Homo sapiens: one gene and its partner. The protein of the gene in region 1 interacts with the protein of each later gene in a pairwise test. Each region holds a gene or a part of one and is shown on either strand. Other genes may lie near its edges. The genes, in order: RASSF4 and RASSF3.

Region 1 (8,627 bases):
CACGCACAATCATCAACTGTTTTCTAAAGAATACACATTTGGAATCACACAGACTTTTTGAAAAATTGCTTGAAAAGGTCATTTGTGGCAGGGCATCAGGGCTCACGCCTGAATTCCCAGCACTTTGGGAGGCCGAGGCAGGAGGATCATTTGAGTCCAGGAGTTAGAGACCAGCTGGGCAACATAGAGAGACCCTGTCTCTACAAAAAATTTAGAAATTAGCTAGGTGTGGTGACCCATGGCTATAGTTCCAGCTACTCAAGAGGCTGAGGTGGGAGGATCGCTGGAGCATAGGAGGTCGAGGTTGCAATGAGCTGTGATTGTCACTGCACTCCAGCCTAGGGGACAGAGCACGCAAGACTTGCCAAAAAAGAAGAAGAGAGAGAGAGACAGAGAGAAAGAAAGAAAGAAAGAGAGACAGAGAGAGAGAGAAAGAAAGAAAGAAAGAGAGAGAGAGAGAGAAAGGAAGGAAGGAAGGAAGGAAGGGGATGGAAGGAAGGCAAGCAAGCAGGGAGGGAGGGAGGGAAAGAGGAAGGAAGGAAGGAGAGAGAGAGAGAAAGAAAGGAAGGAAGGAAAGAAGGGGGAGGAAGGGAGAGAGAGAGGAGAAAGAAAGAAAAAGAAAGAAAGAGAAAAAGAAAGAAAAAGAAAGAAAGAAAGAAAGAAAGAGAAAGAAAAAGAAGAAAGAGAAATAAAAGTCATTTGTTTTTAATTTAATGTTGGATACAATGAAGGGGGAAAAAATCACATGAAGCCATCCATAAAAGGCCTTAAGGAATCAATCAGATCTATCAGAAATTAATTCAAAATCCCACTTACTGTCTTAAGAGAATGGCTTGAAAATGGTTCTCATTATTAATATCATTTACATCAAGATATATAAACCTATTTTTCAGGACTCAAAAATCTAAATGACATCTCAACAACATGTGATTGTACCCAGGCATTTCCCCCTGGGAGCACCAAAGGGAAGAAGGTAATTTTTCGGTCTTTTGGAAGCTGTGCCCTGGTGCCAAGATGCCTCAAGCCAAAACCACACAGAGCAGCCTGCCTGACAGATGGGCCCAGTAGCCTTTATCAAGCTCTTAGGCTCTTATGAGCTTCCCTACTTGCGAATTAAACATAAATTTATCCTTTGCGGCTCTTTCATAAAAACACTGGCTCATGAGTGTTTCCATTTGTCTTTTTACGGATCTTACAAGTCAGTCCAAACTGTTTGCAGAATAACAGCATTTCCTAAGTCTTTCTGAGGTAGGAAGGCCAAAAAGAATGCAATTGCCCAAGACGAACAGGACACCCTGCTCACTTAATGGACTCCCAAAGGCCTCCTTTACTGGGGCGGCGCCCTGGAGCAAGGAGTCTTGCAGGAACTTCTGTGTGGCCTTGGCTCCCCTGAGACCCAGTGTGTTCCATTAGAGGTAGATGTTGTTTTTCCCTCACTCCCGGGTGGTACAGACACCACCACATTGGGCCATCAGGCACAAACCTGGACTCTGCCACTATCTGCACATGTCATTTGGAGGGGGAACTCAGCCTCCCTGAGTTTGTTTTCTTACCTGAATCTGGCAAAAAGAAAAAAAAAAAATCAATCATACATCAGATATTGATTAAACACTGTGACAATCCAGACAGAATCAGTTTTTAAGGAAACATAGTGTCTCTTCCTCTAGGAGCTCATGATAAAGACTGGAATATACAGCATGCCAGAGTGGTATGCGTGGGTCAGGGACGGGCATTTTACAGAGGGCCCAGGGACGACCTGAAAAAGGAGGTGATTTGTGATTAAAGACCTGAAGCAGGGGAAGGAGGGAGCGCTGTGGACATCTGGGGAAAGAGCCCTCCAAGGGAAGGAATGACCCTGACAGGAACAGGCTGGGTGTGTGGGAGAAACAGTGTGATCAGAGCAGGGAGAAGGAGAGGCAGTAGGAGGAGATGAGGTCAGAGAGACAATTAGGGGACAAGATCATCTAGGGAAGGGGTTGGCACACTATAGCCCTGCCATCCATTTTTTAAAATAGTTTTATGAGAACCACAACCATGTCCTTTGGTTTACATATTGTCTATGGCTACTTTCAAACTACCCCAGTAGTGGTGAGTAGTTGTGACACGGACCATTTAGCCCACAAAGCCTAAAATATTTACTATCCAGCCCTGTACAGAAAAGGTTTACCAACCTCTGCCTTGAAGAAATAGGGGCTAATTTTTCTCCATGGTAGGGAGTCTGGAGTAGGCAGTGCAGGGTTGGTGCAGAAGCTCCATGATGTTAAGAAGGATCCAGACACCTTTGATCTTTATGCTCTGCCAGCCTCAGCATGCGGACATGTTGCTTTATGATCTCAACATGGCTGCCAGTGCTCCAGACATTACACATCATGTCCTCATTTGAGACAGGCAGGCAGGAGAGACATCTGTTCTTTCTACCAGAAAAGCAAAAGTTATCTTCACCATCCCTCAGATCTCTCCTCCCCCAGGACACCTTCCCCCATCTCTGCGTCCAGAAGTAGGTCGTATGGCCACTTCTAGCTTCACTGAAAAAAAGCTATGAAAAGGATTGTCAAGACTTAGACAGCTGTTTTGTTTTTTTTAACTGTAACCCACAGTAAGAAGCACACATAACTGAAACATAAACAATGCAAACAAAAAGTTCCACAAAACACAACTTATATTTACTATTTGTGCTGTACACTGGTATTTTCCCTTGCATTTTTGAAGTACTAGTCACATCATCAACTAAATTAATTTCATGACCCACTATTGGGTTGTAAGTAGAGTATGAAAAATACAAGTGGGCATGAGCCATAACTAGGGGCTGGCATGTTGCTGCTACAGACAAGTGGGTATTTCTCTCTCCTTTCCTTCCCTCCCTCCCTCTCTCTTTCCTCTCTTCCCCATTCCCTCTTTCCTCCCTCCCTCCTTCCTTCCCTCCTTTCCTTCCTTCCTTCCCTCCTTTCCTTCTTTCCTTCCTTCCTTCCGTCCTTCCTTCCTTCCTCCCTCCCTCTTTCCCTTTCTTCCTTCCTTCCTTCCTTTTTGTCCTTTTCCTTCTTTCCTATCTTTCTTTTTTCCAAAGAAGGAAATGGACATTGGCTGGCAACCAACAGTATCTGTAGCCTCCACCATAAGTGAGCTGGAGACCACACCCAGTTCTACTGAACCCTGAAAGAAAAGGTGACCCCTCCTTCTGAGGGGTCTGACAATGGACCCTCCCCTTCTGAGGGGAGGACGCTGACAATGGACACCTGTGTCTGATGTAAAATGCAAGCACTCACAGCCATAAAAGAGAATAAAATCGTGTCCTTTGCAGCAGGATGGATGTGGCTGGATGCCATTATCCTAAGCGAACTAATGCAGAAATAGAAAAGCAAACACCACATGTTCTCGCTTACAAGCAAAAGAGCTAAATATCGGGTTCACCTAGACATAAAGATAAAAACAATAGACACTGGGGACTTCAAAAGTGGGAGGGAGACAGCGGGGCGAGGGGTGAAAAACTTCCTATTGGGTACTATGCTCACCATCTGGGTGACAGGATCAATCCCAAACCTCAGTACCACACAATGTACAATTGTAACAAACCCGCACGTGTATCCCCTAAATTTAAAATAAAAATGGAAATTTTAAAAAATGCAAGCAGTAACACCAACTGCCCAGGAGTGCTGGGGGAATTGCATGGGATCCCCAATGTAAAGCACTAGCATAGTGTCTGAGCCCACAATGGGTGCACAGGACACATGGGGTTGCTGTCCCAAACCCAGTCCTCACTCAGAGCCAGTCATGGCCCTGTGAACAGCATTAATTAGGTCAGAGAGAATGATTCACACTCGAGTTCTGGAGAGCCCAGGGAAACTGTTATGTCACCCTGGTGCTATGTTTACTTCTCCTATCAGGAGTGATTAAATTCTTAGGATCTCATGCTCAGAGGTTGACAGTTATATTGAATTTTACCCACTTTTAAAAAACCTTTGGAAGCACCCGATTATTTGTCTCAGCTTTGATGAGGGCTGTGGAAGAGCAAATGTGTCATGACAAGTCACCAACCACAGGGAGCCTCAGAGCTGTCAAAGGATGGGCCATTCTCCAAAAATTCAAGCAAACGCAGAAACGGGAGGGCCCCTGGACTGGGTATCTTCAGTCCTGTCACTTTTTGCAGGTGGGGGTTCCAACATAAGTCATACAGCAGCCATACAAGCATTAGCACAGCCCCTCTAAGTCGAAGTTCAGGGACCCATGAGACTCAAATCCCAGGCTGATTTTGGTGCATATGGCCACCTGCACTTTCTAGAAGATCCATATCAGATTCTAAAATGGCCATGAGACCCTAAAAATATTAGGAAACGCACACTGAATGAAACTAAAATGATTTATGTTAGGGGTGGGAGAGAACAGGTCCAGAGGTCAGAGCTGGGAATCGTGAGGTAAAGCAGAAATTGCAAATGTTTTCCATCAACCCCATCCCCCACCTTGACACCCCCACACCCCAGAAACACTGAACTGTTCCCAGTTCCCCAAATGGCTTGTGGTTTTCTGTCCTCTCTGCCTCCGTGCTGGCAAATATTCGTCCAGGAGGCAGTGACTGGGAGAGAAAGACTAACTTCTTATTCACCAGATCGGATTTCTTAAACAATAAGGAGTTCTAAGAGGCCATGCCAAGCAAACGGCCAGACTGTACAAAGGTGCCCCTTGAGCAATAAATAGCAAATGCTCTGGGCTTTACTGATAAGCCTCCCCAGACTCCAAGCCCCACCAGGCATGCAGACAAGTGCCTGCAGTGATTGCAGCGCCTGCGCAGCGGCCCTTGTTGGAAGTCCAGGAGTCCGCGCTACCCCGCAAAGTCCCTGGCCGCTGCCCGCACACCGAACCTCTCGGGGCTGAGTCGGGCTGCTTTCTCCTCGCGTCCCGGGGCGCCCTCGGGAACTCGGGAGCGCGCGGCGAGCTGAACAATGGCCTGGGGACACCTGGCAGGTCGCAGGCCCCAAATCTTCCCCGCCGCCCCTAGGCCACCGCCCTGCACCCGGAACCTACCGGCGTTCCCAGAGCGGGGCGGACGGGGCGGTGCCATTGGCCGGTGCGGAGTGAGGGGCGTGCTCGGGGCGGGACGGAGAGACCGGGGCGGCACCTTTGGCCGTGCCGGGCGAGAGGCGGGGAGCGGGGCGGGGCGAGGGGCGAGGGGCGGGGCGAGGGGCGGGCCTGGCCCCGAGCAGCTGAAGCCTGGGGTCAGCAGGCGCTGCGGGCGCAGCTCCGGTGCAAGCGAGGACACGACACATGCAGTGGCTTCTGGACTGCGCGATGACTGGACGGTGAGTGATGAACGAGCAGGAGAGTGCTTGGGCGTCCATGGAGCATCCCCTCCGACCCAGGACTGCCACCAGGCAGGGACGCTGAAGCCTGGGCACTTGTGCCCTTCGGCCGCAGCGCGCAGGGTCCCTCCCCCGCCAGCCTGGCGCATTGCGGGCCTCGGGCTCATTGCTGAGAGGGGGCACTGCGCCTGGCACCTCTGTTAAGCAATTTAGGGGCTACAACCTGAGCAAGACAGATGAGCCCGGCCACTGGCTACACCTTTTTTGTTCACCTTGTCCTTAACCAGTTTCCTAGAAGCACTGATCCTAGAGTTGGGGAGAGAGCCTAGAGGCCTCTGGCACAACTCTGATTTCACTGATGGAAATCGAACGCCAAGATAATAGCAGCAGGGGGGGTCTGTCTCACAATCGCTGTCTGTAGAGGGCTCGCCTTGCTCTGGGCCAAGTGCTTTAACACGATATGCCTCTTACTCCTCACAGCAAGTGAGAGTCCTACTTTCGTTATCCCCTTTTCAGATGTGAAAACTGAGGCTTAAAGAGTTATAAAATTGTCCACCTTTACCGGATGAGTTGGTGATGGAGCCAGGATTTGAACCCAGGGCTTGTTGTGCCCCTGAGTCTCTTGCTCTTCACCCTTAGTCTCCGAAGGTCAGCCTGCCTGCTGCCCTGCTCTTCTGGGCTCCTGACTCCGGTCCCATCCTGCACTTCCCACTTCCAAAACATGCCTCAGTGTTTTCATTAACCTGGCACGGCGGAGGGAGGGAGGCCTCCTCTCACACCAGAATCAGTGCCCAGGCCAGGGCCAGCACTTTCTTAAAACACAGTAAGGACAGCTTCAGGAGCCCCATTTCACATAGGAATTAAATAAGGTCGCACAGCAAATAAGGGCTGGGCTTCTGGAATTTGAACCCAAGCAGGTTAGACTCCAAAGCTATGCTTTGCACTCACAGAGGAGCCCCTCGCTGGCTTTGCTGTAGTTTAACTGCCCACAGTACTAAGGTGTCAATCAGGATTTGTTGCCAGAAACCATTTTTTTTTAAGTTAGAAGTGAATTGGTGAAGTAACAGGTAAATGTAGACCATCCTGCCTTCTGTTCCTCTGTGTGGTTCCTTAGCTACTTCTGCCAGGACAGCAGGTTAGGGGAGAAGACAGGAAGGGAGAGGGTCAGAGGAGAAAGAGGAAGGGAGGGAAGAGGAGAGATGAAACTCATTAAACTTAGGTTAAAAAAATGCTGGCCGGAAATTGTCATGGGCTGTTTCAGCACTTTGTCAGTGTATGTGAAGGCTGTTGTCATTAGTTCTAGCCATAATTCTCTCAGTGTGTAGTGCTGGTGATTTGACAACAAAAAGGTTGATGCTACAGATTAAAGTGTCTGTCTGAAACTCAGGAGATTGGGTTGTATTTCCACCATGAAGCTCCAGTGGGTAGCCTGGAGGTCGAGAACAGAATCAAGGTCCAGGGTCGCCCTGGGTCAGGACCAAGTGGACCATGACAGATAACAAAGAACATGAACGAAACTTGGGTGTGTGTCAGAGTTCAGATTCTGGACGTGCAAAGCCTCAAAGGGGAGACCTAACTAGGGGATCTGCCAGAAAGCCCTCTGCCCTGGGCCCCTGGGGTCTGGGGCCTGGTTTCAGGTGTCAGCTCAGACTCTCTCCTCATTCATGGCCACTCCTGCAGGCAGGCCTCACATTCCCATCTCTGGGGCTCCACAGTCTCTCCAGAGCCCCCAACTCCCAGTGTCAATAAGAATAGTAATGGGAGCCTCTTTTCATTATGGGTGAGCCCAACACAAGGCCCATCTTACAGGTCTCCTCATTCGTCTTCACAGAAGTCATCGAGGATTATAGTTATTTAATTGATGAGGAGCCCAAGGTTCAGAGAGGGAACTGGACTTGCTTAAGGTAACAGAGCCAGGCAGTCACAGAGCAGAGCTTTAAACCCAGAGCCTTGCAAAGGCTAGGTGGTTATTCTCTCACAGAGTATGTTTGGGGAAATTGTTTTAAAATAAAGAAAATCAAATAAGAAGTGGCTGCACTTCCTAAAGCTTCAACAGTTTTCTTATTTTTGTAAAAGAGAAACTTGTAGTTCCCGGGGTCTCCTTTTCTGGCTGTCCCACCTTCTGCCCTAGGATATACTGTTGAGGAAGAGGCCCGGAACCCCCTCCCTTTGCCCTGCCTGACCTTGGGAAGCAGGGGTGGGGTGTCATTGAGCCCCATAGCTGCAGTGCTGGGAAGAGCCCTGAAGACTCTCTATCAGCTGCCACAACAGCTCTGGCTAAACTGATGCCCAAGAGACGGCGCAACACGCTAGGATCACAGGCCAAGTTAATGCCACAGCAAAACTCACATGCAAGGCTCTACAACGTTCCTCTGCCTCCTCTTTCTTGCTGTGACAGGTTTCAGCAGAGATTCTAAACCTAAGATCTGGGGATCTGGGAGTACATGGACAAGAGCTGTCTCATCTCCCTGCAGTGATATGCAAATTGTGTGTGTGTTTGCACGTGGATGCAGATTGCAACAACATGCACATACATGCATTTTCTGGGGAGAGTGCACTAAGCTTTCAAGAGACTCCAAAGGACTCTATGACCCAAAAGATTCTGGGACCCTTTTGTCTCACAGGGCCCTTATGTCCCCAGCAGTGACATGTGGCACACAGGCCTGGGGCAGTGGACAGCACAGGTGAGGGCAGCCGTAGAGAGCCTCCAGAGCAGCCCTGCAGCAGCAGGCACCCAGAGGGGTCTGCCCCTCTGCATTGCACTCCCAGCCCCAGGCAATCGGGATATTGGACAGTGCCCATTTTGAGCACGTTTGGCCCGAAAACCATAGCTAAGAAGATCTTTGTTTCTGTGGATCTTCTCTTCCATAGGCTAGAGGTGAGCCTGGTTGGTGGGGAAGTTGAGGAGTGGTTCAGGGGGTTCCAGGAGCAGAGAATGTATGTTTAAGGTGTAAGGGGGGAGCAGGAGGACTGGAAATGGTTTTCTTGTCCCAAATTGCTTTGCCTTGAAACAAGGGCAGAAGCCAGAAGTCTTGCCCACTGGGAAGGCTGGTCTGCGATCTACATGGCTGCTCAGGGCCAGGCTCTCAGAGGAAGGGGAGCTGTATCAGGGAGGCCTGGATGCTGGACTGGACTCAGAGAGACCTGTCAGTGAGAGGCCAGAACCGCAGCGGGGAGTAAAGGTGAGCTGGGCCTGTGTGGTCAGTCCAGGGCAAGGCGGGAGTGGAGGTGGAGGGGAGCTCTGTGCCCGCCTCTCCTGGACTCCCCTGGTCTCCATCACCTCCACCTGGACAGTGCAGAGTCTTCTGGGGCAGGGAGGAGTGAGTTGAGCCAGAG
Region 2 (7,701 bases), on another chromosome or scaffold:
GCATGCTTTATATACTTTTAAATGTGTATATTTCAAAAATTAAAACAATTGTTTTAAATACATTGGAATATGCTGTGTGAGCTTAGGGTTATTTTTCCTCAGAGGATAAGGCAAAGAGAAAATGATATCTGGGAGAACAAATATGACCCACGCGAACCTAGTAAAGTTGTTGCATTCCAGCATGTGTCCCTGTGTATATGTGCAAAAGCAGCTCAGCGCACTCCTGTGACCTTTTTAAATCTAGCATATTATCATAAATAAACACACATAAACAACTAATAACTTCAATTTTTAATAATGGAAACAATTTTGCCATTCTAGAAACTATTTTAGGGGAGAAAAATCTTCCCTACAAAAATAAACTTAAACCCATCAAAATTATAAATATTATAACTTTTTACTTCTGCCATTTAAAATGCTCTCCTGCAATACCACCCCTTCATTTAACATCCTTCCTGTACCATCACATATTGAAGAGAAAACAGTATTACAGCAAAGCTTAGATAGTTTAACATAATGATTTGTACAATGATTCTTAAAAAATCTTTGGCCTTAGTGGCCTTTTTTCTTCACTTACACATTAAAAATGCTGCTGCAGTAACCAGTGTTTGGGAAAGGACATCAGTCTTCAAGAACCATAAACTGACAGAATTTCAATACAGTAGGTTTCCAAATTGCAATTTGTAGTGCACATGACAGTAAGCGAGGTTTTGGGTAAATATAGATGAGGATGCCTATTCAGACAATCTACTTCAAGTAAAAAAAAAAAAAAAAAAAAAATTCACAGATACCCATCAGCTACTACTTTAGGTTCTAACAGTGTCTTAATCTGAGAAACAAATGCTTCACAAAATATAAGTTTACTGGGATGAATAATTAAAAAACCAGGTGGTAATAACAATATACTCAAATCCAGGCCATAGTCTGAATAATAAAACCAGTACAAAAAATCACGAAGGCATTCCCTGAACAATAAAGGTAAAGTGTTGGATGACAATGTCACTAAAACCTCATCAATGTACAAAAGAGAAGTTACATGCAAAATTAAACAAGATGTGCCATACATATTTTATAGCTAATTCTATTTTTTTCAACTTTCCTTAAATGCTTAGGAAGATATGATTGTCTCAGTAAATTGTGTGGCACAGCATAACAACTTAAGTCTGCCTCCAACAAGATGGGTATTCTCCAAAAAGTCAGAAGAGCCACCAAGAGACGAACAGAAATGCAATAAAAGGCACAGTTCACTTGGGCAAAGAACTGAAGCACCTTGGAATTTCAAAAAGAATCCATTAGGTGTCACCAAAGTGTTAACAATTCCTTGGGAATTTATAAACAAAAAATATCTAGACTAAAAATAGAATATAAGGCCCCTCTGGAACCACTGCACACCTTTCCCTCTGTTCTCAGATTAAACTGCTGCATAAAATGAGGTTATTTAGCCTGTTTTTAAGGAAGGCTTCTATTGCACATGCATCTCTTTGGTTGGTAATAACATGTACTTTTGTTAAAATATTTCCATAATGAAGCCCTGTTGTGTGGTTAGCTGGGTGTGGACTTTCCTCCCTTTCTTGGGGGCCCTCCTACTCACAGTCAAGTTGCCCTTTAGAACTAAAGATCTGGTAGGATTGGGTCTTTATTCAATAGCCCTGTTCTCTATTATGTAAGAACAGATTTCAATGTAGAAAAGAAAGGGAGAGGGAGAGAGAGGGAGGGAAGGAGGGAGGGAGGGAGGGAGGGAGGGAGGGAGGGAGGAAAAGAACAAGGTAGGGTGGGAGACAGCAGGGAAGGAAAGAAAAAAGGGAAGAAAGGAAAAGGAAAGGAGGAATAAAAGGGAAGAGAGTGATTGTCACCAAAGTTTACTTGACAAATATCCTAGCTAACAATCAAGGGAAAAACAGCTGCCCCTACCCAAATTCCGTCTCAACTTTGAAAACCACCTGTGGGGGGAAAGCTATACACTATGTAACTTAACAAGAGTTAGTGAACTGTCACTGTCCTGCCTATGCAGAGCAGCTACACCAATCAGACCTTCCACTCCAAAAGGGCAGAATTAAAGGGTCGGATCCAGCTGCGTGAGGCCCACCTCTGCCCAGGTCAGTAGGCTACACCTGCCTGATTCTCTGATTGGTCAGCTGCAGAGTTCATGGGTCCCTCCTTTTGGTTTAGCTCCTGCCTCTGGCTCTGTTCCCATATTCTACCCACCAGGAAACCAAGCGATCCTAAAATGGGTTTAACACCTCCACACTGAATGCTTTTAACTCGTTTACAAGCAACTACCCCTTTCTCCACTACCCCTAACTGAAAAGCCAAGTCACCTTCCATAGCCCGCAGCACTCGCCACCACCGCACATGCCTTCTTCCAAACTTACACTTTGCTTTCTCTGTCAACCCCCTAACAAAATCCTTCACAATAAATTCCTCAGAGTTCCTAGATTCCTGTGCCTTTCGATTCACATGGATAGATTCCTCTGACATTAAAAAAAGAAAACAAAACCAAACAAAAAACCAGACAGGTAGTTTCAAAATAGGACAAGTATTCAGAAAGATTCCTAGTTAAGCTTTTTAAAAAATCAACTGCATATCTGTAAGCTTAACAGCATCATCACATAATTAAAATAACCAAAAAAAAAAACACCCCCAGAGTTCATGCTTCCAAGCACCCTCGAATGCTCCTGATGAGGCGACAGGTTCACAGCTTGCCAAGAGGTAACACTGCGGTGCTGAACAACAAGCTTGCAGAGTCCCTTACATGGGACGCTAAGGTGCAGGATGCTGTGTGACCAGGTTTGGGGAACAAAATCTACAGATAGAAAGGCGAAGACCCTAGCATAGTGGGGCAAGACAGCAGCCCTCTGAGAAGAGAGGCACTTGCTGCTGTTTTGTACATCGGTCCTGCACCGGGCCTCACGGGCAGGGAGCCCCGCTTTAATCAGGCTTCCACACCTCACGGAGGGCTTCTTCCAGCTTCTGCCTGTAGGCTGTGTAGCGCCTCTTCAGGTTCTGCAGCTGTTCATCTTCTTCCTTGTCCAAGATGCGCAAGAAATTCTGTAGTTCTGGAAGGCTGAAGGCTTCCCACTGTCAGGAAACACAGAAAGAAAAATGCCAGATGTTTAATACTCAGTTAGACTTAGGAATGCTGACCAGGAGCTCCCAGAGGTGCGGCTGCCCTCCCCTCCCAGCCCCATGCCGCAGAAGGTGTGGTCTGCAAGAGCTGGGGTGTTGCCAGCCTAAGGGCTCCCTCCACTCCCACTCCCACCTCAGCTCACACCAATCACCTTCCTACCCTCTCCTCCCACTGTTCAAGACGATCTCCCTAAAAGCCAGAGACCTCCATATCCCTAAGTCTATTGGACACTTTCATTCCTTACCTGATTTGACCCCCAACAGCATTAAAAACAATTCGACAGTCCTTTCATCTTAACCTCGAGTCCTCATTGTAACTGACTTTCTTACCTCGCATAATCAGTCTTATCACCCCCAAACAGTTCTCCATTCAGCCTTTTCTCCCTCGGTACGGCCCCTTGGTGCTAGCTACTATCATCTATTCCTGCATCGCTGGAACAGCTTCCTACCTGGCCTCCTCACTCGGCTCTTATGCTCCCCCATCTGTTCCCCAAACAGAACATCCTTTGTAAAATGCTCATCTGGCCAAGACTCTCCCCTGCTTAGAACCATCCAATGGCTTCCCTTAGTTGCTGATGCTGTCTGAAAGACTCTAAACTCTCCGGCCCCATCTCTCTCTCACCGAGCTTCACTCTCTGCCCAAGTGGCACGCATTCTCCCCTCCTCCACTTTGCCTGGCTATGAACTACTCATCCTCCCCATCTCAGCTTAAATGCCACTTTCTCTAAGCAGCTTTCCACAACTTCCTCTCCTCTCTTCCCACCCAAGGCTAAGTGTATCAAAAGCCTTCACAGAGCCCCTGATCACAACCAAGATTTTTAAATTACAATTATTTGCTTAATATCTATCTCACCTGCACCTTACCTACACCACAGCTGCCGTACTTCTCGCTATTTGGAGTTTATCTCTTGCCTTGAGGCTCTGAGCCTTGTTTCCCTAACAGCTCCTAGTACTTATTTAGCAGGCACAAAATAAGTTTTTAGGCTGGGCATTGTGGCTCATGCCTATAATCCTAGCACTTTGGAATGCTTAGGCAGGAGGATCATTTGAGCCCAGAAGTTCAAGACCAGAAGTTCGAGACCAGCCTGGGCAAAATAGTGACACCAGGTCGCTACAAAAAATTTAAAAATTATCTGGCTGTGGCAGTACATTCCTGTAGTCCCAGTTACTTGGGAGGCTGAGGTAGGAGGATTGCTTGAGCCCGGGAGATTGAGGCTGCAGTGAGCCATGATTGCGCCACTGTACTCCAGCCTGGGTGACAGTGCAAGACCTAGTCTCTTTAAAAAGAAAAAAAAAAAAATTAAAACAGATTTTAAAAAATAGAAGCAGTGAATGTCAAGGAGGGTATCTAGCATCATCTACGAGGTTTTTTCCAAACACATCCTCCTCTCCCAAAGGGGGCCCTGGATCCTGGTGGAGAACTGCTGTCTGATGGTGTAGAGAAAAGATTCAAGATAACCAAATACAAACAAAGAGTGAAAAATAAGTAAATCCACCAAATGGGCTCAGTGGTAGAAGAATTCCTGGAGAACAGTTTAGGCTGGTTATTTAAAAAAAAAAAAAAAAAAAAGAGCAACATGGAGTAGGAGAGCAAAACTTCTACGTTAGAATATTCTGTTAATTTTTAAAATTTTAACAGATTATCTTTCACCTATGTTGAAGTCTCCAAAATAAAGACATCATATAAATATCCCTCCCACCCCCTAACAGCTATGGAAATTTCTTCCTCAGTTCAGTTTTCCTTAAATAACTGAGAAATAAGAACACCATACAGAGGTCCAGTACAGCAGTCTGGAACAATAAAACCCAATGTCAAGTCAATTTCAAAACTAAGTTAAGGCCAGGTGCAGTGGCTCATGCCTGTAATCCCAGCACTTTGGGAGGCTGAGGTGGGAGGATTGCTTGAGCCCAGGAGTTTGAGACCAGCTTGGGCAACGTAGTGAGACCCTATCTCTAATTATAATTAAAATACAATAAAATAACCAAGTTAATAAAATTCTTGCCCAATGTAGTTCTAGTTGCTACTTAAAACACTAAGTACAAGAAAAATAAAACACTGAGTAGACTATGCTAATGTGTCTGGCTTAAGCTGGCAGAGGGAATGGTCACCATCTGCAAAGCCAAGTCAGATTTCTGCACCCTGCCTTCTCCCCAAAATGAGTCTGAATGTCTTGAAAAGCTTCAAAACACCAGAATCAAAAGAAACTTCAAAAACATGTAAAACCACTGTCTTCCTAAAACTCCCTTCACTTACATGTATACATTTCTAATTGTGACTCAAAGCCCACCTTGTAAAGTGTTTAGTCCCACTTAACAGATTTTAAAACTGAGGGCTAAAAGATTAGAAGACTTATCCAAGGTCATGCTACTAATCTAACAAACAGTAGGAAACAGAGCCGTTTCCTAACTTTTAACCTAGAAACCCTATTCTCAATTGCACCATGTAGGACATTTCACACCATTTCCTGTTCCAGACAGAAGACTGGGACAGGAGCTTGGGATTTGCTCAAGTGTCATTTAAAGCTGACACTTGATCTAGAGGGCAGGCTCAAGTGCTTTTTTTCTTCTACTGAACTGGCTAAATACAATCCTCCCTGGAGACAACATGGCAAATGATGCACATGGAAACATAATTTCTTAATCAGTTGACTGGGCAAGGGGGAAAAAAAAGATGCTAGAAAGCTAAATGCCTTCCATGGTAAAGAGATCGAATTTCCTTTTATATCCCTTTAGAAGGGAATTAGCCTGGAGACTTTTGTTAGTAGCAAACACATGGTGAGTGTCAACTTTCAAAGTTCAGCTGGACTGGAGTATTTTGGAGGTGGGAAGGGGTGAAAATGACTCTCTGGATGGAGATCAAGTAAAAAAACTTTATTTTCTCCCACCTCTGAAAATGACAGACTAATAATATAAGGTTGTGAGAGAATGACATCATAGGCTAACTTTGGGTTCATTTCTGACAATTCAAAATCCCTCTCCCTCTCCCTGCCCTCCAACTCTCTTCTCTTCCCATCCCCCTGCCCTCCAACTCTCTTCTCTTCCCATCCCCCATCAATAGCCAAGTCACTAGGCTACTGCAATAAAATAGGGCCAGCTGTTCTGTATAGTTTAAAGCAATAGTGAACAATAACTTACCTCTCCAATTTCATGTTCACGAAGAACAAAACTAAGTGTGTCTGTTCTGGGCCCTGCTACCAAACGCAGGTAGAGTGGATGTTCCCGGTCTGAGAGCTTGCAGGCGTAGACTGGGTAAAGAAACAAGCAGCATGTTACAGAGTATTCAGCCATTCCTGAGACCACTTCCCCATTGTGATCCCCTCCTCCAGATCAAGGTAACCATCCAAGTTACCCCAGCCTCTAAGTCGCCAGTCGGCTCATCTTATTATTTAATACCAGTAGCCCACAGTGGAATAAAATCTATTCTGTTTCTGTTCAAATATAAACTGTGCCTTGATTAAGAAGGAAATTATTTTCAAGAATAAATTTTAATAGATATTAGTCCCAAAATATGCTTATAGTTAGCTCTGCTCTTCCTTTTAGAAAACAAGGTAAGAGCCAGGCATGGTGGCTCATGCCTGTAATCCCAATACTTTGGGAGGCCGAGGTGGGCGGGTCACCTGAGGCCAGCAGTTTGAGACCAGCCTGGCCAACATGGCAAAACCCTGTCTCTACTAAAAATACAAAAAATCAGCCGGGCGTGGTGGCGGGCACCTGTAATCCCAGCTACTTGGGAGGCCGAGGCAGGAGAATCACTCAAACCTGGGAGGTGGAGGTTGGAGTGAGCCGAGATCGTGCCATTGCGCTCCTGCCTGGGCAACAAGAGTGAAACTCTGTCTCAAAAAATAAATAAAATTTTTTTTAAATGAAAAAAAAAAGGCAAGATAAGAAACCTAAAAAAGGGTCCACTACTCCTTTAAAAACAATAAAAATAGGCCAGGCATAGTGGCTCGCACCTGTAATCCCAACACTTAAAGGCTGAGGCAGGAGGATCACTTGAGGCCTGGAGTTCGAGACCAGCCAGGGCAACATAGCAGGACCCTGGTCTCCAAAAAAAAAAAATTTTTTTTTCTAACTAGCCAGGCATAATGGGGCCCGCCTATAGTCCTAGCTACTTAGGAGGCTGAGGCAAGAGCATCACTTGAGCCCAGGAGTTCAAGGTTACAATGAGCTATGATCATGCCATGGTACTCCAGCCTAGGTGACAGAGTAAGACGCTGTCTCAAAAACCAAGGCCAGGCGTGGTGGCTCATACCTGTAATCCCAGCACTTTGGGAGGCCGAGACAGGCAGATTGCCTGGGGTCAGGAGTTTGAGACCAGCCTGGCCACCAACATGGTGAAACTCTGTCTCTACTAAAAATACAAAAGTTAGCTGGGCATGGTGGTGGGCACTTGTAATTGTAGCTACTTGGGAGGCTGAGGCAGGAGAATCACTGGAACCCAGGAGGCGGAGGTTGCAGTGAGCCGAGATTGTGCCACTGCACACCAGCCTGGGCAACAGAGCAAGACTCCGTCTCAAACAAACAAACAAAAAACAAATTTAAAAAAAAATGTATATACCATCCAAAGAACATAAA

What was found.
Region 2: the proteins of RASSF4 (region 1) and RASSF3 interact in a two-hybrid assay, tested with the Homo sapiens proteins (one study listed by IntAct).

Annotation. Positions count from the first base shown.
Region 1 is NC_000010.11:44,954,576-44,963,202, forward strand, and holds the start of RASSF4 (ras association domain-containing protein 4), read left to right. Parts: upstream 1-5,226; 5' UTR 5,227-5,291; intron 5,292-8,627. UniProt on the Homo sapiens protein: Potential tumor suppressor. May act as a KRAS effector protein. May promote apoptosis and cell cycle arrest.
Region 2 is NC_000012.12:64,690,140-64,697,840, reverse strand, and holds the end of RASSF3 (ras association domain-containing protein 3), read right to left. Parts: intron 6,372-7,701; coding exon 6,262-6,371; intron 3,079-6,261; coding exon 2,929-3,078; 3' UTR 277-2,928; downstream 1-276.